Linked DNA regions of Homo sapiens: region 1 is linked to region 2. The links come from fine-mapping of genetic effects on gene expression. A gene starts in region 2. The other region holds a variant in brackets. All regions are shown on one strand. Distances are from middle to middle. Region 1 overlaps ZCCHC4 (zinc finger CCHC-type containing 4). Region 2 holds the start of ZCCHC4 (zinc finger CCHC-type containing 4).

What was found. PIP is the estimated chance that this variant, and not a neighbour inherited with it, causes the effect.
Region 1: its variant is the best candidate, but not a certain one, in a credible set for the expression of ZCCHC4 in prefrontal cortex (BrainSeq, PIP 0.85).

What each region holds. Positions count from the first base shown.
Region 1 is chr4:25,348,519-25,351,440 of GRCh38, forward strand. It overlaps ZCCHC4 (zinc finger CCHC-type containing 4), which reads left to right. Exons shown (of 13, transcript NM_024936.3): 7 at 974-1,124. Among named protein-coding and RNA genes, the nearest start is that of ANAPC4, 27 kb to the right of the region's middle. The variant C/CT (reference allele first, on the strand shown) is at 1,736.
Region 2 is chr4:25,311,043-25,313,964 of GRCh38, forward strand. It overlaps ZCCHC4 (zinc finger CCHC-type containing 4), which reads left to right and starts at 1,732. Exons shown (of 13, transcript NM_024936.3): 1 at 1,732-1,894. The coding sequence starts at 1,768. RefSeq lists enhancers at 1,386-2,262, 1,791-1,850 and silencers at 1,511-1,580, 1,588-1,792.

The DNA.
Region 1 (2,922 bases), 37 kb after region 2:
GAGCATGTACACTTTTTTCTTGTCATTATTCCCTAAACCATAGAGTCTAAGAACTATTTATGTATCATTTACGTTGTATTAGGTATTATAAGTAACCTAGAGATTATTTAAACTATATAGGAGGATGTGCATAGGTTATGTGCAATACTACAACATTTTATATCAGGGACTCTAGCACCTGCAGATTTTGGTATATGCAGGGGTCCTGGAACCAATCCCTCAGGGATACTGAGGGGACTGTACTTGAAAGCTACTTGCAAGTCAGTTGAGTGGAGATACTGTTATATGGTATCTCTTAATAACTTCACTTATAGCAAAAACCATTAAATGTCCCTGTTAATGTTTACTTTGCAATTACTAAAAAAGCTTAAATTAACCTTTGGGAAAATGTGTTAATAGCATGGTTTCATGGACCAGATGCGCTTTGTCGTTTGTGAACTTTCATTTTTTATTTACTTACAGTGCATGTTCAAATATGTCTGCCTGATACTCAAAAACATATGCATGTTTAACTGCTAATTTGTAGCTGTTATTAAACTGAACTCATGGCATTGGACAAACCAGATAGGAAAACAATGTTTTCTTCGTCTTTGTGTGCCCAGTGCTTAGCACCATCCTGGCTTCTGTTTGTTAAATTGAATTTAACATTTTAGATAGTTTTCATGGGTAATGAGTTTCTTTTAGGACATTAAATTTAGCCTTTTAATTTAACCATTTGAAATGTGTAGTCTTCTGATAGTGATGGTGTTTGAATTTGCAATTTTAAAAACCTGCTTATCAAAGAACCCAAAGATAAAATCTCATAGGAGCAAAGAGAGGCTTCAGAATGTCACTGAGGAATGCTGCGGTGGCAAGATGACTTGGTAAAGTTTCCAGTATTAAGAGAGAGACTGAGTCTAATGCATTCTCCTCCAAATAGGATGAAGTGCCTCTCTCTAGTCCTAATTTAGAAATGAATTTTTATTTGTTCCAGACTGCCCTTGAAGTATGCAGAGCATTTTTACAGGAAGATAAAGGCGAAGGAATCATTATGGTGACGGATCCTCCGTTTGGTGGCTTGGTTGAACCTCTGGCTATTACATTCAAGAAGTTAATTGCTATGTGGAAAGAAGGTCAAAGCCAAGGTGTATAATTTATTACTGCAAAATAAATACATATCTATATATCTACTTCCTGTCAAATATTAGCTGAGCTCAGTGAATCAGAGCAGTGATAGAATATACATGTCTTGAGTTCTCTTTTTAAAAACAGGCTTATTTGATGTTGCAGCAAACTTCATTATCATGATATACTTTGTATTATTCTAATCATGTGGATTTTTTTAATGGCTTATAGGTAAAATACTATGTTTTTGATGGGGATAATGGGACATTATGCAGAACAGCAGTGAACTGCTGTCATTCTATTCAGTAAATATTTACCGAGTGGCCACTGTGTGCCAGGCACTGTTTAGGTACTAGGAATAGATTTTTGAACAAAGCCGACACATACCTCTGCCCTGTGGATCATACATTCCCTGTTCCTAAAGCCTGGCCCAGAACACTAAGAGGGCACTCAACCTGAGGTCCAGGGCTCTACGCTTTGCCAGGATATGAGTTTGGAGGTTAGACATCCCATAGGCTGATTGTGGTTATCAGTGACACAGATTCCCAGCCCTATAGGTAGGCTAGTGGCTGGGGGTTATTATTCAGTTTAAGTGACTTAGCCGTGTACGGTCTTCAGGCAGGTACTGCTT[C/CT]TTTTTTTTTTTTTTTTTTTTTTTTGAGACAGAGTCTCACTCTGTCACCCAGTCTGGAGTGCAGTGGTACAATCTCGGCTCACTGCAACCTCTGCTTCCCAGGTTCAAGCGATTCTTCTGCCTTAGCCTCCTGAGTAGCTGGGACTACAAACATGTGCCACCATGCCCACCTAATTTTTTTTCCCCTGTATTTTTAGTAGAGACAGGGTTTTGCCATGTTGGCCAGGCTGGTCTTGAACTCATGGCCTCAAGTGATCTGCCTGCCTCAGCCTCTCAAAGTGCTGGATTACAGGCGTGACTTAGGACTTCAAAGTATTTTATATAATTATCTAATTAGTTGGTACATTCATTTTTTAGAAACATTTTCTAGCTCGCAAGTTGATAAATTTGTTAAGAGTGTCAGGAATTTTGTGATCATGCTTCTCCACTAATAGTGCTTTGAGGGACAATGCAAATGAAATATAAAACGTGACTCATATTGTTAAGTATTTCACTTATTTGCTGTTTTTAAGTCCACTAATTAGAGTGGATAAAGTCAATGTCATTGGGGAAGCAATAAAGAGCTTTGTGGGCTTGAATTCCTGTTCTGCCACTTATTAGCTGCATTGGACTTGATAGCTTATGGCTTCAGTTTCCCTATCTGTAAAATGGGATAACATCTAATTCTAGGGATTATTGTAAGGAGACAGTACATAGAATGTACTTATTATAGCTTAGTGTAAGCACTATGATTAGGCTTGCCTCTGATTAAGGCTTTTCAGCCTATTGGAATTTTAGCTGTAATAGTGCTATAATGAATACTAGCCTATACTAGGTGCTTTGTAAGTAATAGCTGTGTTCCCTGTCTCTCACAAACACTAATTTTGGTAAAACTGTTTTGAAGAATCTTCCATGATGCAGACAAGGTTGATTCATCCCTGAAAACTAAGATAATGAGTTGTGGCAGAGCTGGGATTCACACCGAAGACCTACTGCCTTCTAGTCCAGAGGTCCTTTCACTGCATCATGACTACCTTTGTGCCTCAAAAGTGGCACTCCTTTTCTATTTTCAACTTTTTAGGTAACATCTTTGCCTTACCTAGACAATAGTAATATACATATAAGGGTTACTTTTACATACTCTTAGTAGCTATATTTCGATATAAAGGAATATGTCCACTGACCTTTGGGAATAGACAGGTTTGAAA
Region 2 (2,922 bases):
TGGACAACTTGAAAAAGGGGACACTGGTACATCAAAGATACAGATGCTACTGGTGCAGATGGAGAATTTGAGTAAAACCATTACATGAAATGTGAAAGAAAAACAGCCATGTTTTTACAGTAATAAACCATAGCACTCAATGTGTGAAGTTAACTAGGCACATGCCCCAATGGTTCTTTAAATAACATAAGAGACTATTTCGTCTACAACCATAGACATGTGGCTGCGTCTTGATTACTGCACTATAAGACTTGAAATTGAGTAGGCTGATTCCTCCCACTTCATTATTCTTTTTCCAAAATTGTTTTAGCTATTTTAGTTCCCTTGCCTTTCCATATAAATTTCAGAATATTGTCTAAATGTACAAAAAGAATCTGGCTGGGATTTTCATAGCAATTGTGCTACACCTGTATAAGCATTAAACCTGGGGAGAACTGATATCTTTACTATGTTGAGTCTTCTGATTTATGAATGCAGTATGTTTCTGCATTTGTTTATTCTTTGATTTTTTTTTTTTTTTTTTAAGACGGAGTCTCACTCTGTCACCCAGGCTGGAGTGCAGTGGCACAATCTCGGCTCACTGCAAGCTCCGCCTTCCGGGTTCACGCCATTCTCCTGCCTCAGCCTCCCGAGTAGCTGGGACTACAGGTGCCCGCCACCACGCCTGGCTAATTTTTTTGTTTTTGTATTTTTAGTATTTTTAGTAGAGACGGGGTTTCACGGTGTTAGCCAGGATGGTCTCGATCTCCTGACCTTGTGATCCACCTGCCTTGGCCTCCCAAAATTCTGGGATTATAGGCGTGAGCCACCGTGCCCGGCTATTCTTTGATTTTTAAAAAACTTTAAAAATTGCTTATTTATTTTAGAGATGTCGTCTCGCTTTGTTGCCCGGGCTGGTTTCGAACTCCTGGATTCAAGCAATCCTCCCTCCTTGGCCCCCCAAAGTGCTGGGATTACAGGTGTGAGCCACTGCACTCAGCCTTGATTTTTTTTAATCAAGCATTTTGGAGTTTTTAGCATACATAAAGCTCTGTACATATTTCGTTAGATTTACACCTATTTCATTTATTTGAGTGATTGTAAGTGGTATTCTATTTTTTAGTGTTCTTGTGATCATTGCTAGTATTTAGAAATCCAGTTGATGTTTGTGTGTTTATCTCATATCCTGCAACCTTGCTGAACTCAGTTTAAACCGGAGGTGTTTTCCTGATAGATTCTTTCGGATTTTTAAAATGTGGACAATCATGTCATCTGCAAATCAGGACGGTTTTCTTTCTTTCTTATGTATAAATGTCAATGAGTATGCAACTATGATGTGCAACTTTCAGCATTGTCCAAAAGTTACAGAGGATGATGCAGTGACTGTGACTTTGAAAAACAAAGAATGATCCTTAAATCACAGCTGCTGCAGCCATTTCAGCTATTTGGCAGAGGTGGTAATGCTGCCTTTTGGACCTACAATACAACCAAGTCTTTGTTCGAATCATCTCACTTCCTGGCTATATTCTTAAGAAAGGAGGGTGCTTCATGCGCTGAGCTCATGGCACAGGTCCCGCAAGTGACCTGCGAGCCCCACCGCTAGGGGCCGCTTAGGTGCAGCCCCCAGGTGGGCGGGGACTGCGTTTCGGGGCGTGGCCTCCGCCGCGGCAGCCCCCGCCCAAGCTCCTCCTAAGCGCCTGGGGGCGCTGTGGGTCGCTTTGGGTCGCGGGGGCGCTCTTTCTCAGCATTCTTGTTTCGTACTGAGGCTTTCGGGACGGCGGCGGGAAGATGGCGGCCTCCAGGAATGGGTTTGAAGCCGTGGAGGCAGAGGGCAGCGCAGGGTGCCGGGGAAGCTCGGGAATGGAGGTGGTGCTTCCTTTGGATCCTGCCGTCCCCGCCCCGCTGTGCCCTCACGGTGGGTCAGAGTCTGGGCTCAGCCTAACTGCCGGGCGCTGAGGGTGTGAGTTGGCTTGGAAGTGGCTTTTGGGGCTCCTGTATTTTTACCCGCCTCTTTCCCTCACCAGTGTGCTGCCTAGAAAATACTCCTTCCTCGGAACGCGGTGTTTTTCAACTTACTTGAGAAACATTCAGAGCAAGTCTCCACTCTTGTGGTTTTGGCTCCAGGACTATTTCATCTCTTTTGGGGGGAAGGGGCAGAAAAGTAGGCAAAGAGAAGAATGCATGGTATTGAATAGTTCTCGTTGACAAGTACTTGGGGATTTCATTTGTTGATTTGCTCTCCCTTCAAAAATAAAAAATTAGGGAGAAAAACAGTGTAATTCTTGCCTGCGAACTAGACTCAGTTTTTCTCTAACTTACAGAAAGTGGGCGTTTCCAGCTCAAAGCTCAGGTTTTCACTGCAAGGGTAACCGCGCAAGAGATGTCAAAGTCCTCAATTCTCTGAGTCCCTTCCTTGTTTTAGTCTCAGGTTTGTAATATTCACAACGTAGACAGCAACTGTACCGACAATAGCATTTTCTTTCTGAAGAGACCGGTTTTCAAAAATTATTTATAAGTAGTCACTGCCGGAATGTTGTAACAGAGAGAAAAGAAACATTCATTAAACACAGAGAAGCCGGCGTGGTGGCGTGCACCTGTAGTTCCAGCACTTGGGGGGCCGAGGCGGGCTGATCGCTTGAGCCCAGGAGTTTGAGACTAGCCCGGGCAAAAATGATGACACTCCGTCTACAAAAAAAGAAAAACAGCTGGGGACACGCAACTGTAGTCCCAGCTACTCGGGATGCTGAGGCGGGAGAATCGCTTGAGGCTAGGAAGCAGGATCTCAGTGAGCCATGATTGTGCCAGTGCGCTTCAGCCTGGGCGACAGAGGGAGACCCTGTCTCAAGAAAACAAAACAAAAAACCCTAACAAAACAAAAAACAACCAACCAAAGAGATGGATTTAATTATGATAAATTGTGCCTAAAGCTCAAACAAATTTTAT